Homo sapiens: one gene and its partners. The gene in region 1 interacts genetically with each later gene. Each region holds a gene or a part of one and is shown in the gene's direction. Other genes may lie near its edges.

The links. Genes that interact genetically often act in the same process or in processes that back each other up.
Region 2: changes in PTP4A3 (region 1) and RNF144A together harm fitness less than expected from each alone (positive genetic interaction), as found in Homo sapiens cells (one study listed by BioGRID).
Region 3: changes in PTP4A3 (region 1) and SCN5A together harm fitness less than expected from each alone (positive genetic interaction), as found in Homo sapiens cells (one study listed by BioGRID).

What each region holds. Positions count from the first base shown.
Region 1 is NC_000008.11:141,430,013-141,432,988, forward strand, and holds the end of PTP4A3 (protein tyrosine phosphatase type IVA 3), read left to right. Parts: intron 1-914; coding exon 915-1,032; 3' UTR 1,033-2,442; downstream 2,443-2,976. UniProt on the Homo sapiens protein: Protein tyrosine phosphatase which stimulates progression from G1 into S phase during mitosis. Enhances cell proliferation, cell motility and invasive activity, and promotes cancer metastasis.
Region 2 is NC_000002.12:7,039,370-7,044,679, forward strand, and holds the end of RNF144A (E3 ubiquitin-protein ligase RNF144A), read left to right. Parts: intron 1-259; coding exon 260-391; 3' UTR 392-4,810; downstream 4,811-5,310. UniProt on the Homo sapiens protein: E3 ubiquitin-protein ligase which accepts ubiquitin from E2 ubiquitin-conjugating enzymes UBE2L3 and UBE2L6 in the form of a thioester and then directly transfers the ubiquitin to targeted substrates.
Region 3 is NC_000003.12:38,604,688-38,611,729, reverse strand, and holds part of SCN5A (sodium channel protein type 5 subunit alpha), read left to right. Parts: intron 1-1,765; coding exon 1,766-1,996; intron 1,997-3,515; coding exon 3,516-3,579; intron 3,580-4,919; coding exon 4,920-5,061; intron 5,062-5,581; coding exon 5,582-5,779; intron 5,780-6,821; coding exon 6,822-7,001; intron 7,002-7,042. UniProt on the Homo sapiens protein: Pore-forming subunit of Nav1.5, a voltage-gated sodium (Nav) channel that directly mediates the depolarizing phase of action potentials in excitable membranes.

The sequences.
Region 1 (2,976 bases):
GCACAGTCTGGGTCCCCGCTGTAAGGACCAGGTGGCGGGGACAGGGTGAGCGCACAGTCCGGGTCCCCGCTGTAAGGACCAGGTGGCGGGGACAGGGTGAGCGTACAGCCCAGGTTTCCGCTGTAAGGACCAGGTGGCGGGGACAGGGTGAGCACACAGTCCGGGTCCCCGCTGTAAGGACCAGGTGGCGGGGACAGGGTGAGCGCATAGCCCAGGTCCCCGCTGTAAGGACCAGGTGGTGGGGATGGTGGGGACAGGGTGAGCACACAGTCCGGGTCCCCGCTGTAAGGACCCGGTGGCGGGGACAGGGTGAGCACACAGTCCAGGTCCCCGCTGTAAGGACCCGGTGGCGGGGACAGGGTAAGCGCACAGCCCACGTCCCCGCTGTAAGGACCAGGTGGCGGGGACAGGGTGAGCGCATAGCCCAGGTCCCCGCTGTAAGGACCAGGTGGTGGGGATGGTGGGGACAGGGTGAGCATGCAGCCCAGGTCCCTGTTGTAAGGGAAGGTCGCGCAGCTGGGCTGGAATTCTGGGCTCAGCCCCTCCCTTACTCACAGGCCCCCCTTCCTGGATGGTGGAGGTGCCCAGGCACCACCCTTGTTGTCTGCTCATGGCCTTGGGGTGGGTCCTACCGAGCTAGGGAAGCCTGGGGGCCGTAGGGAGCCCAGAGTCAGCCTGGAGGAGGTGGCGCTTTGGTGAGTTTGGAAGGCAAGCAGGGGTGAGCTGCAGGGGGCCAGGAAAGGGTGACTGTGACTCTGGGAGCAGCCGTGCCAAGGCCCTGGGACAGGAGGGGCTTGGCCAGCCTCAAGGCCTTACTCCAGCCCACTGCACTCTCAGATTCCAGCTCCCTGGGGCAGGTGAGATGGCCGAGCCAGGTCCTTGGATGATCTCTGTTCCTGTTCCCCTCTTCCCAGGAAGCGCCGCGGAGCCATCAACAGCAAGCAGCTCACCTACCTGGAGAAATACCGGCCCAAACAGAGGCTGCGGTTCAAAGACCCACACACGCACAAGACCCGGTGCTGCGTTATGTAGCTCAGGACCTTGGCTGGGCCTGGTCGTCATGTAGGTCAGGACCTTGGCTGGACCTGGAGGCCCTGCCCAGCCCTGCTCTGCCCAGCCCAGCAGGGGCTCCAGGCCTTGGCTGGCCCCACATCGCCTTTTCCTCCCCGACACCTCCGTGCACTTGTGTCCGAGGAGCGAGGAGCCCCTCGGGCCCTGGGTGGCCTCTGGGCCCTTTCTCCTGTCTCCGCCACTCCCTCTGGCGGCGCTGGCCGTGGCTCTGTCTCTCTGAGGTGGGTCGGGCGCCCTCTGCCCGCCCCCTCCCACACCAGCCAGGCTGGTCTCCTCTAGCCTGTTTGTTGTGGGGTGGGGGTATATTTTGTAACCACTGGGCCCCCAGCCCCTCTTTTGCGACCCCTTGTCCTGACCTGTTCTCGGCACCTTAAATTATTAGACCCCGGGGCAGTCAGGTGCTCCGGACACCCGAAGGCAATAAAACAGGAGCCGTGGCCGTGTGTGTGGAGTGGGCTACAGCGTCAGGCGGGGCGGGCTGGTGGCCTGGGGGCCCCAGAGGCTGCTGTCTGGATCCTGGGCTGGTGCCCAGGATGGGGCTCCCGCGTGCTCTTGCGCTGCCCTCTGGTGGCCGCTCTGGGTCCTTGCACCCCGACCCAGGGGCCAGCCTGCCCTGTCCTGTCCTGATACCGAGGTGGGAGCCCTGCCTTGGCCAGGGTGGCCGTGTTGACGGTTCTTGGGACTGTGACATTGGAAGGCGAGGCAGGTCACCAGCACTGTCCTCTGCAGGATGGGCTGGGATTCATTTGGCAGCTTCTCAGGGCCTGTGTCCGGCTGGTTGGTCCCTGTGCTGCCCAAACCAGGTGTCCACATTTCCGGCTCCGAGGCGCAGAGAAGGGGGCAGGTGGTGGCTTGGGTGGAGGAAGTCACCATCCATCAGCCCAGGGAGGGAGGGTGCCACCTGGGCACCTGGGGCTGGATGTGAGAGGCCTGGACCAGGGCCCGCCGGAGGGCGTGGACCAGATGCTCATGTGTTCCTGGGTGCAGTGTCTGTGTTGGGGGCTGGCCCCACCCTGGGCCGGGGTGCATGGAGGGCATGGCCCCAGCGGGGAGGAAGGTGGGCCTAGGGCTGGCTCCAGGGTGTGGAGAGCCTGGGAGTGGTCTCCGTCCTGGGGCCCCAGGAGGTTCCCGCAAGGAGCGACTGGGGCAGGTGCTGGAGGAGGTCAGTGGACAAGATGGGGAGATGTGGAAACCCCAAAAGCCCCTTCTCAGGCAGCCCTGCCCCCAAGACCGACAGATGGCTAAGGGGGCCGCAGACCTGGCTCCCCCAGCTCCTGTGTGGAGAAAGGGCAACAGCTGTCCCGGATGGTTATTCTCTCCTTTCCTCAAACACATTTGGAACTCAAGTAAATCCAATGCATGTTGGGTGAAGTTTGCTGTATTTTTTCAATCCACCAGCCAAGTTTTGGGGTCACCTCTGCTGGCCCTGTGTAGCCATGTCCCTGCCCCAAGAGGCTCACAGTCTAGCAGGGTTGGGGGGAAGACAGGCTGGTAAGCCTCCCAGTTACAGCTAGGGGTGCTCCACCTCGGGGGGTGGCGGGGACAGGGGGCATGGAGGTGGGGCCTTGGGGTGCTGCACCTTGGGGGGACTGAGGGACAGGGTGCATGGAGGCAGGGCCTCAGGGTGCTCCACCTTGCCGGGGGGACGGGGGAATGGGGGGCATGGAGGCGGGGCCTTGGCGTGCTCCACCTTGGGGGGCAGGGGAAATGGGGGCATGGAGGTGGGGCCTTGGTGTGCTCTACCTCGTGGGGCAGGAGAAATGGGGGCATGGAGGTGGGGCCTTGGTGTGCTCCACCTTGTTAGGGGGCAGGGGGACAGGGGCATGGAGGCGGGGCCTGGGGGGGGCACAGTGCAGAGTACCACGTCGGGAGGTGGGGGAGATGCCCCAGGTGGAAGGACTGCCT
Region 2 (5,310 bases), on another chromosome or scaffold:
GGGTAGATGATGGTTAGATGGGTAGATGGATGGATGGATAGATGGATGGGTAGGTGGATGGATGGATAGAGAGATATATGATGGTTAATGGATGAATGAGTAGATGATGACTAGATGGGTAGATGGATGGATGGATAGATGGATGGTTGGGTGGATGGATGGATGGATGGATGGGTAGCTGGTTGTGTGGTTTACACTTTAGCTCTGGAACCTACAGACCAGCCCTCCTTACCTCTACCCCTTTGTTTCTTTCTTCCAGGTTGTGGGCATTTTTGCAGGATTTGGGCTGCTGCTCTTGGTGGCCTCACCTTTCCTACTCCTGGCCACTCCCTTTGTACTTTGCTGCAAGTGCAAGTGCAGTAAAGGTGACGACGACCCGTTACCCACCTAGAGGAAGCGCGATGCTGGAACACATCCCTGCCTCCGGGAAGTGTGGCTCTCCCCCAACCCTCCCCACCGTCCCCCCTTCACTAAACATCTTTCTTGCCTTATGTGCCCCATTGAGCTTCACAGTGTCAGGCTGGACGCCGTGATTTCAGGGACCTATGTCACAATGTTCGCTGAGGCCCCAGGTGTGGTGGGGAGGGGAGGCAGGTGTGGGTAGCGCACATCCCCACAGATCAATCTCTGCAGATGACAGGGAGGTGCTGTGAGAAGTGCACCAGGCAGCTTTCTCTCTGTGGTAGACTAGGCATGTCTGGGGATGGCCTAAGAGACTTTCTGCTCCTTGGCTTCTAGATGGCACCATGTTGTCAGAGAAGTCTTTTAAGGACTGCCACTCTCTTCAGACAGAATCTGATTATTCCAGCTTGAGAGAAGCACTCTGTTTATGACAACTGTTTTTATTACTAATGGCATTTAGTAAAATCCTTTTTAGAAGGTATTTTTTTTCCAACTGAGTAGTGAAAATCAACAAGGTGCATATAAACCATCCTATGCCTTTCTTGAAATGTGCATTTTAAGAAGTTATAGTTAAACGACTTTTCAGGAGATTTAGAAAGCCTTATGCACTCTTTGTGTTTTTCTTGAAACTTGCTGTAGTAACTTTTTGAACGCTGTAAGCTGTGTACTGTTATAAGTGTGCTTCCTATATTGTTGCATTTCCTTGATAATATTGACGTGTTTAAAGGAACATCTCATCTCCATTAGATTTGCCTTTTGTTGTTTTCTCTCTTTGGTGATTCAGCTCAGCTCATGGGCCTCATCCCTTCTCTCCCAGGTAGCAGAAAACGCTTTTTATTGTATTCAATCCCACTGCTTTGCTCGGCAATGGTTCTCCTCCGAATTGCTGCCGTCTGGCCTCTGGCCTCAGTCTTCAGATAGACAGTAAGAAGAAAGCAGCCTCATTGATCCGCAGATGTAGGGGCCTCTTGGCAGAGGCTGGAGGACTCTGGGGGCTAGGGAAGAGCCTGCCAGATTTTCACATTTTTAAAATGTTCTAGTCATTTTGAGAAATCATATATCTTACACAGTTCCAAGTCCTGTTGCTAACCGTTTTGCTCTTGTTGGGGAAAAGAACCTCCCATTTCACTTCGTTTTAACGTGGGGATTTTACCACTTGATCTTTTACAGGGCTGTCTGTGACCATTTCCATGGCAGCAGGATGCAGGGATTAATAAGGACACATACACATTATTCCACCAATTGACTTTGAAAAGTGGAGAAAGTGTATTCTTTAAAGAGAATTTACTTCTAAAAGCCACAGGTGCTTTTACAAAGCAAACTGCATTGAATTTAAAACTTCTAAAAATAACAGGCAAATATTGTAGCTATATTACAGTGGGATTTTAAAAATCTTGTTAAACATTCTATAAAGAAGTAAAACAAAATCCTTTTATCTCAGTTATTTGCCCATCACAAGCACATTTTTAAAATGTTGCTTTGTGTGTGTTTGACTTCTGCATTTGAGTATCAGTCTCAGGTCCTAGTTTACTTTCCCTGGTTGGAAATTTATTTCTTATTTCCTAACATTGAATTCGTTAGAAAAAACAGCGTCACCTCACTCTTCACCTGTCATGTTGATTTTCCTTATGAACCCGAAGCCATTTAGAAAATCCCTGTGTGTCAAAATTACATTCAAAAAGCTCTCCTTGTAATTGCAAGTTTAGTAACTCAGTAAGAACATGCCTGCGACTCCCTTTCTGGATGGAACCTGGGCTGTGGCTCTCTGTCGTTTGTGGTGCTGTGATGGTGTCTACTGTTAGAATAGCTTTTCTGGAGGTGGGTGGCAACTCCACGCGGGAGTCATTGGCTGGGCTTGAGCCCTCAGCCTGTGATATGTGGATGCAGCTGTCCAGCCACTGCCCTTTAACATGCCCAGCACACATGGGAGGCCTGTGGCCCTGTGTCCAGTGGCCCACAGGACACGCCTCCACCATATGCTCATCCTTCCTGCCTGAAATTGCTGCTGCCCATCGCATGAGCCCACACAGTAGCACCCCCGTCCTTAGGATGAGAGTCAGAGCCTTTGGAAAGGCTGCATCCCCAGGGCTAGAGCTCAGATGACCTTATTTCTAGAGGGACAGGCTGTTCTGTTGGAAGAGTCTCTGGCCCAGTCATGCACATCTGTAGCCCCAGCCATCCTTGTGCCTTCACCTCTGATGTGTTTCACAAGCACGTAGTTCAACCCAGATAGGGACCACAGAGATTCTGGGGCCAGCCAGGGGCAGTCAAATTGGCACCTACTGGCTCTGACTTTTTGTATGAAGCATGCCTCAGTTTCCTCATTTTGATCTAGATATAAAATTAAAATTGTCCATTTCCTATATAAATACCAGCAAGATCACTCTGAGATACATAAACTCGCATTTCCTTCTGTTTTAGTAAGGAGTGCCAGACTTATCTTTGATGGGAATACAGTATGAACCCTGCTTGATGTAAAATGGAAATAGCACACAGGCAGATGGCCCTGGGTTTGGACTTTGATCTTGCCATCATTCCCCAGTAAAACCTGGGGAGTTCTGCGTTGAGTGGACGGACTTATTCCTGTGAAGCGGCATAATTTGTCTCCATTGAAAAATGGCATTCACTCTTACAGATGGTGTTCACTGCAAGCCCCAGAAGCATATGGCATGTGTTCACTAAGAGGCCTTTAATCCTGGGGAGTAAGGGGCGAAGGCCCTTAGACAACCATGGCTGCTGTACTGCCGCCCAGGGTGGGTGGCCAGTGAGGACTGGCCTTAGCCCAGTGGACCTGTGGCTTCTCTGAGGCCCTTGAGTAACTGACCACATTTGGAGGTTTTGCTGGAAATGCCTGACCTCTCAGTCTGGCTCTGCTGTGTAGTCCATAGCCCAGCCAGATGAGCTTGCAGCCTCATAGGAGGTCAGCACCTTGCAAAGATGCAGTCACCATAGATGTCCACGTAGCAGAGACTGACTTAGGATCTGAGATAAAGCATCGGATTGCAGGAATAACTGTCCAAATTAGTTCTTCCTCCTCAACTCATAGGAGTAGCTGTGGACAGAGGAACCAACATCTGCCACCTCTGGCATTTTCTTTCTTTTTTTTTCTTTTTGAGACGGAGTTTCGCTTTTGTCCCCCAAGCTGGAGTACAATGACAGGATCTCGGCTCACTGCAAGCTCTGCCTCCCGGGTTCAAGCGATTCTCCTGCCTCAGCCTCCCAAGTAGCTGGGATTACAGGCACCCACCACCTCACCCAGCTAATTTTTGTATTTTCAGTAGAGACGGGGTTTCACCATGTTGGCCAGGCTACTCTCAAACTCCTGACCTCAGGTGATCTGCCCACCTCGGCTTCCCAAAGTGCTGGAATTACAGGCCTGAGCCACCCCACCCGGCCTATTTTCTTAAAGGGGAACAAATGATCTTGACAACATATTATTCCATAAAACCAGTTTAGGGCACAGGCCAGTTCCTGATTAGAACACAGGACCTGTGGGAGGGACTATCAGAGATGCAAAAATTACTTCAAGATGAGTTTATTGTTTTCATTTGTATTGCAAAAGTTAGAAGTCATTTTACAAATTAAAAAAACATTTTTTTCTTGGTAGTCTTTAAAAATTAGGGGATTGAAAGGATCCAGGATGGGCTTTGTGTGTGTGTCTCAGATTCTCATTTATTAGTGAGCACACCTGTGTATATATATAAATCACAAGGAGATCATCAAGGGAAAACATTTTGCATGTGTAAAGCTTCATGAAGTTCTCTTTAAAAAATACCAAAGCTTGTTTATTTCTGATAATTAACCTAAGCCCTTATGAAAATAAACAAAATGAAGGGATTATGACAGGTATTACCAAAAACACCAAAAGGAACAAAGGGGCCTGCGTTAAAACCTAATTGCTAATGCTTCACAACTAGGAGAGCATGCCGTCTTGATGTTTAAAAAACCCAGGGTCTCCACCCTTCCTTTGATTTGTGCAATTCTGTCTTCCACAGTTCCGGAGCCTTCAGTGAGGGGTAGCTACATGCCCCATGCCTGCCCTTTCTTTCCTTCTTTGCTCACTTTACTATGGGTGTATTTTAATCTTGTATAAAAATATGCATGAATGAGTCATGCACATGTATACGTTATGTATTTGACAAGTGGTGGTGAAACAAAATCAAAACAGATTTGATTTGTGTTTTTGAAATGTCAGTACATTTTGTGCCACTAACACTGTGATGTATAAAAGAGCTGTTTGAATGCCTTTTAATGTTGTGTTTTGTACTCTGGAATCATATGGAAAAAGTTTGATTTGTAATTTCAATACATATTTTAAATGTATTGTGTCTTACGTAGTTTGTCCCCCCCTTTAGCAGGGATTCCTTTTTAAAGCTATTTTGGCTGGAATACAGGTGACTTTTGTAAACCCCGCGTGGCTCCGTCTTTTGTAGATGCTTATCTGACTACTGGCCTGAAGATGGAAAATATTCTATCTTCAGTCTTCAATATTTAATCTATTGAAGATTGAAAATATTCAATGTGGGAACTGGGGGTGGAGGGAGAAAGGGTGAGGCAGGGGAGGGATCTTATATCACTGGGAAAACAGCTCTTGTATCCTGAGATTTTCTGTTTTAGGAATGTTCTCAACTCCTAGATGCCAAAATTACTTGGTTTGTTGGGTGTATCAACCCGTCCAGCCATTCCTGGCTCCCTCTTGTGGTGCCCAACCGGTACTGCAGCATCAGGAAGCATCTCATCCCCACTCAGGGCGCTCTGCTTCCATCCGCAAAGACAAGTTCCTTACAGACCTGTCACATTTTATGAGTTGCAGCATGAAAATCAGGAGGCATCCTTTATCTGCTGGGGGTGGGGAGAAAGTGGAATAAATATGGATCCTTCTCATTTCGTAGGAGAGATAATAATGAG
Region 3 (7,042 bases), on another chromosome or scaffold:
CTGAGTCTGAAATAGCCCTAGTCCTCTCTAGACTCAGTCGCTTTTCCATAAAATGAGAGTGAAATCAGAATTGGTGATTTCCAAGGGCTCTTCCACCCAGCCTGTTAATTCAGTGGCAGGAGGATTTCCCAGTTGATCTCCTGGGGCCAATCCCTTCCTGGGTCTTTTCAGAAAGAATCCTGCAGTTTCGTTGCAACCATTCTTGCCAGAAGTGAAATCTATCATCAGTATGAGAAATGTTCAAAGGGGTGAGTTACCCTTGGCCACTATGTCCACAGACCAGGTCAGGGGGTGCTTTGCTGGCCTTGAATGGGATACTTCAGGCCAAAGAGACTTTAGCCTAACAATTGAGGCAGAGACCAGTTTGGGTATTGGAGCTGCTGTCCATCAGTCTTCACTTTGTTCCCTTCGAGACATGCAGGTCTCCAGCCCAGTAAACCCACCAAAGGGTACAGGAAGCTCTGTTACAGATGAGGAGCTCTGGACCATGAAGAGCTTGTGAATCTCACCACCGCCACTACTCTGGACCCAGACCTGTGAGGTCCACCCACTGCCCAGGCAGTTGCCAACATCTGCCAGGAACGATTTCCACAAGGAAGGCTGAGTGCCTCTGAGCCCTGGGTGGGCAGCAATGTCAGTGGCACCATGGGGAGGTCATCCTCTCCCCATCTTGTGTTTGCTCATCATGGCCTCCCTGCCTGTGGGTCACAGGCCCAGCAGCAGCAGGCACAGAAGCCACAGGCGCTCCTAACACATTAACCGGCTGGACAGTGGATGGATGGAGCTTAATCTGAGATCTGGCCGCTTGGGACAGGGACATGAGGGGCAGGGCCCTGCCGCTGGCAGAGGAGCCTCCTCATTCCCCATGCTCTGCTTGCACTTGTCCTAGGACAGTCGCTAAGGGCCAGACTGGTGTCTACACATGCTTTTCTGTCATTCTGCTATGTGGTGCTGGCTTCTGCAGGGAGCTAGGCTGTGCAACTAACAGAACACAGCCTCTCAGCTATGGGAAATGGGATGGATGGGGGTGTGGGGAGGTTCTAGAGGGACAGGGCAAGTGAGAAGATGCAATGCAGGTCAGTCCTGTTCCTGAACCTTCCCTAAAGGTGGGCCTGAGCCAGCGCAGGCCCCTTAGACATCACCCGCCATGACCCCGCCAGACCGTCACCCACAGCCCCCAGCACACACCTGACCACAGCCCTCAGCCCCTACCCGACCAGACCCTGGGCCCCTAGTTTCCTCCAAACAATCCACACTCCCTGTACATCAAATAGAGCCAGCCCCAGCAGTGGGGCAGGAGGACCTCCAGCAGGAATGGCTCTATTTCTCCCCATCTCAAGATCAAGGCTGAGGCCCCTCAATTGCCTCCATCTCCTTTTCCATGGACTACATTAAAAGGGGTAGGCCTAGCACACCTTCAGACTAGCCAAAGGGGGTCATGCTCTGAGTATGTGTTGTCTCAAGAAAGCAGCACTTTCCACACCCATGCCATATATTTGGCTGGTGGAGAGCAAAGAGGAGCAGGCTCCCTCTGAAACTACAAAGCCAGCCTAGACTCCTGCCCAGGGAAATCAGGACAGAATCTCAGCTGTGAGGAAAGTGGGGCTTGGGTCTCAAAGCCCAGGAGAAGCCTCCCTTATTCTGTCCCCACCTCTGGTTGCCTACACTGGCCCCACCCCAGCTCAACTCAGGCCCAGCCCCCCACCAGTGGAGCACAGAGCTCGGTGCCCCTGGGTGACCCCGTGCTTGTTCTTGCCTTCCCCAGGGCTGAAGACCATCGTGGGGGCCCTGATCCAGTCTGTGAAGAAGCTGGCTGATGTGATGGTCCTCACAGTCTTCTGCCTCAGCGTCTTTGCCCTCATCGGCCTGCAGCTCTTCATGGGCAACCTAAGGCACAAGTGCGTGCGCAACTTCACAGCGCTCAACGGCACCAACGGCTCCGTGGAGGCCGACGGCTTGGTCTGGGAATCCCTGGACCTTTACCTCAGTGATCCAGGTGCGAACTTGCTCTGCAGCTGGGGAAGACTTTGTGAGACCAGCAGACCGGGGTCACCTCCCACACACGCGTCACCAGAGGGCAGGCCTCCAGGGCTGTTCAAGCCCTGCCTGATCCCCCAGAGACCCAGACAGAGGACAGACGGGTAGCAGACTTAGGGCCTGCCTTGTGACTTCCCAGGCTAGACGGAGAGGCAATGCTTGAGGAGTGGAAAGTATGGAGTTAGATAGAGGGCCAGTTGGCTGCGGCATTTGGAGATGGGACTGACCCTAGAGTGTTGCAATGGCAAGGTGACCAGCCTGCCCACAGAGTGTCAGCTTAGGAAAGGGGTGGACATGGAGCCAGCGTAGTTGATGAGGCTTCAGAGTGAAGCCCCACCTAGCTGGCATGGAGATTTCCCAGTTGCCGTCAGTGTTCCTTGCCAGGATGCTCGTTCCATATACGTGTACCCCAGAACCCTGCAAGAGGGTTGGAACAAGCCCAATGATTGTGCCAAGTTGTGTGAGCCCCTCTGTTGTTTCACTGCCCCGTGGCTCACACTTCCATTCTCCAGGCTGATGGCCAGCACCACTCTTGACTAGAGCCATTGGTCTGTTTCGGAGGTACATGCTGCTGCAAGGCCAGATTCCAGGCCACAGGACCCTGGGCCAGAATGACCCTGAGGGCCATTCTGAAGTTAGGGCCTCTTACATACACCAGCAGTCCACTTTGGAAAACAAAACATAGACACTCAATGAGTAGTTCAGCAGTGGCCTCATAACAGCAGTTCTAAAACTTCCATGTACACCCAAGTCACCTAGAAGGCTCTGGAAAACAGACTTCTGGGCCCCACCCCTAGAGTTTCCGAGTCAGTAGGTCTGGGTGGCAGTCAGGAAGTTGCATTTCTAAGCAGTTTCCACTTGATGCTGATGATGCTGGTTCGAGGACCATGCTTTGACAACTGTCGCCTAAGACAAAGCCAGGTAATGGTGAGTGTTGGGGACTGATGACTTGCCACAGAAAGGAGAGGACAAGACGGGCAGTCCTGTCTGGTGTAGCCCCATCCGGACAGACCACAGCGTTAGCATGGTGACTATTGCAGGCATCACTTCCAGCATTTTATGTGATGGAAGTGAGTACAGAGCTGGGCAGTAGCCGGCCAAGGCCCCACAGTGACTCGGCAGCCAAGCCGTAACTGCCCAGACCCTTGCCTCCTGGCCTTGGTGGGCCCCCTGAGTGGTTTCGGGTAGGGTGCAGAAGCTTCCTGTGGGGAGAGCTGAGGCCCTGCCCAGGGCTTCCCGTGTCTTCTGAGAGCATGGGGACACTGGCAGCAGGATGTCTTCAGAGGAACAGAAGGAAGGCCAGAGGCACAGCCAGAGTTGCCTGAAGCCTGGCCAGGCAGAGGGCAGGGGCAGGGGCAGGGAAGGGGCAGAGAAGAAGGAAGACCGCTAGTGAGGTCTCCACCTCCCCAGAGCCCTGGATGCAAGGCGGAAACTTTTGGGCCAGAGTGCCCCTCACCAGCATGATGTTTCTCTTACAGAAAATTACCTGCTCAAGAACGGCACCTCTGATGTGTTACTGTGTGGGAACAGCTCTGACGCTGGGTATGTGGCACCTACCACCCCGGGTCTCCTTGTCCTGCCAGGGGAGTCTCCTGGTGTTTTCTCAACTGACTGTATTTTCTATTTATGCCCTGACCCCAGGGACAGCGAGGCCTTCTTTTGTCTCCCTTACCTGCCAGGACCCTTCCCCAGCTTCCCCACCTTGCCCCCAGCACAGAGGAGACAGCTTCTGGAGAAAGGTCAGGGACAGAGCTGCAGGGAGAGCTAACGGAGCCCTGAAGGTGGGCTGGGACTGAGGGATAGCCTGGGATGCCTTCTACAGCCCCCCAACCAGCCCACCCCCAGCTCCATTCCCTTCCAGAAGCTCCCCAGAACTGCTCCCTCCAGCTCCAGTCTTCCCTCCGTTGCTGCTGATCTGTCCCTTGGAGCAAATGTGGTTTCTCCAGCAGCCTGGACTTTCCTTGAGATGCCCAGTAGCCATGTGCAGCTTCCAGGGCCCTGTGCACACCAGGGCCTGGATCACTGTGACAGTGCCATGGAGTGTTGGAGAAGGGGGTCACAGAGGGCCACCTCAAAGGAGAAGTACCAAGTTTGTTGCCTCCTTCCTGTCACCAAAGAGATTGTCTGGAGGGTCTTGGGGCATTAGCAAGACACAGAGGTCCCTTGGATGCATCCATCCACTTGCTAAGTCCCTCGTGTGTGTGTGTGTGTGTGTGTGTGTGTGTGTGTGTCATACACACATACATGCACACATGACTCCAGACCAGCATTTCCTCTTTGGAGAGAGGCTACCACCTCCAGCTCTGTGAACTGTGAATCTGCCTCAGTGAACCAGTGGCTGTGTGCACAGTTGTGCAAATGAGCTCCTGACATGGCCAAGCCCCAGCCCATCCCCTCCAGAATCATTTCTCAACCCCATGGCCCTGCCTTTGCCCTGGGCTCATCCTGTTCAGCTCAGCCGAGGCTCACTGCTCTCCCCAACCCTGCTCTCCCCCATGCCCATGCTGTACTCAACTCCTCATGGGGTAGATGGGCAGAGGAAGAGACATGAGCCAGGCTTGTGTGCTTCCTCTCTGTGAGGAGAGGCAACTTGATAGTAGCTGGGGATGGTGTGACGTATGGGCAGAAGGGAGCTTGATTTAGGCCTAGCAGAGTACATATAAGAAGAGTAAAGAGGAAGATAGTGTCCCAGTGGGAGGCACAGCACGAACAAAGTCACGGAGGCAGGATCCAGCAGCGTGGCACTAGGTTTGTGAAGCTCAGCTTCACTGAGCTGTGGGGCATAAACTGGGTTGCCCAGGGAGACAAGTCCAGCCCAGCAAGGGTCTCAAGGGCAGCAGACCCCTGACGGCATGGAACAAAGTCTCTGTGTGTGGCTGCAGGACATGTCCGGAGGGCTACCGGTGCCTAAAGGCAGGCGAGAACCCCGACCACGGCTACACCAGCTTCGATTCCTTTGCCTGGGCCTTTCTTGCACTCTTCCGCCTGATGACGCAGGACTGCTGGGAGCGCCTCTATCAGCAGGTGTGTGTGTGCCCACAAGGGACAGCAAGTGTGGGCTCAGGGTCCAGGCTACACAAGTGACTAGCCAGAAGTGGCCCCAGCAGCCTCCCCACTGGTGGGAGCTTTGGAGGGGACAGGGGACAAGGACCCTTGCTTCTGAGGGAGAAGGGATCAGCAGCAAAGAAACTTTCTTTTTGCTGGTGATGAAGTACCAGTCCCTTTGTATAGGATGCTCTCTGCTCTGTGAGTGGGACACTCTTTCTCCCTGTAGGATGGAATATTCTCCCTCTGTGGGCACAGCATGCCCTGAGTTGGGTGGAACATTCTGCCTCCCTCCTCAGGTGGGACACAGTCCCGCTGTGTGCAGGTCATTCTCCTCTGCAGGTCAGTACATGTCCCTCTCTATAGGTGGGACATCTCTACCCTCCTCCCTAGGCTATGGCTATTTGAACCCCTGGCACAACTAGACTAGGTGACTTGGAAATGCCATAACCCAGAAGGGGCCCCAGTGAGGGTGACCTCTGCCCCCTTGCTCCCCCAGACCCTCAGGTCCGCAGGGAAGATCTACATGATCTTCTTCATGCTTGTCATCTTCCTGGGGTCCTTCTACCTGGTGAACCTGATCCTGGCCGTGGTCGCAATGGCCTATGAGGAGCAAAACCAAGCCACCATCGCTGAGACCGAGGAGAAGGAAAAGCGCTTCCAGGAGGCCATGGAAATGCTCAAGAAAGAACACGAGGTGGGTGAGCAGTGCCACCGAGGAGCCTCTAAGCCCTCACCTGACTGTAGGTGCCTATAGGTGGGGTATATGCCAGTTAAAGCTGGTGCCTGTGGGCGTGGTACATGCTGGGTAAAGCTGGTGCCTGTGGGCATGGTGCATGCTGGGTAAAGCCAGTGCCTGTGGGCATGGTGCAGTGCCTGCTGGGTAAAGATATTTTCTGTGAATGTGGTATCGCTGAGTAAAAATTTGGAACCTGCTGGGTTAAGACGTGCCTGTTAGTGAGGAGCCTACTAGGTAAAAGTGACATCTGCTGGGTAAGGTGGGTCCTATGAGTGTGGCTTGTGCTGAGTAAACTTGTTCCCTATGGTCGTCATGTCCTCCAGGTGAAGGTGGCGCCAGCTGGGTAAAAATGGTGCCTGCTGGGTGGTAGCTCCTGGGTAAAGATGGTCCCTGTGAGCATAGTGCATGCTGGATAAGAGATGCATGTATACATGCACATAGTTTATTCTGGTCAAGGGATGCCTTCTGGTGGGGTAGTGAAGAAGGTCCAATGTCAGAGAACAGAGCTGTCTCAGAAAATAAGCACTGACAATGCTGCCCTAGCCATCCCTAGTCCCCCACATGGTGGAGCCTGGAGGCTGGCTATAGAGTGAGCTATTAGAAGCCAGAGCTATTAGAAGCATCCACTTGTTCTTCTCACTACCCCATGCCACATATTCCAGTACACTTTTGGCCAGCTAAACCTTCTAGAAGAGCCTCTGCCTTCTGGTTCTGCCACTTCTCTGCTCATCTACACCCACCTCCCACCTGTTCCACACACTCCAGTCTTCCGAGGCTGCCCACTTTAGCCACTCCTATCTTCCTTCCTGGATCTTGATCTTTCCCAAAACATTCTGGGTCTGTCTGAGTTTATCTCCATGATGTCCTCATTTTGGGGTAGGTGTGCAAGTCCACTTACTGATAGGGAAAACCAAGTCACTGAGAGTTGCCTGGCCTGCCTGAGCCTGAGGCTGCACAAAGTCTCAATGATGGAAACGTCCGTTCCTCCACTCTTTTCCAGGCCCTCACCATCAGGGGTGTGGATACCGTGTCCCGTAGCTCCTTGGAGATGTCCCCTTTGGCCCCAGTAAACAGCCATGAGAGAAGAAGCAAGAGGAGAAAACGGATGTCTTCAGGAACTGAGGAGTGTGGGGAGGACAGGCTCCCCAAGTCTGACTCAGAAGATGGTCCCAGAGCAATGGTAATCCCAGCTGTGGTTCTAGCTTTTCCAGGGTGGGTCTG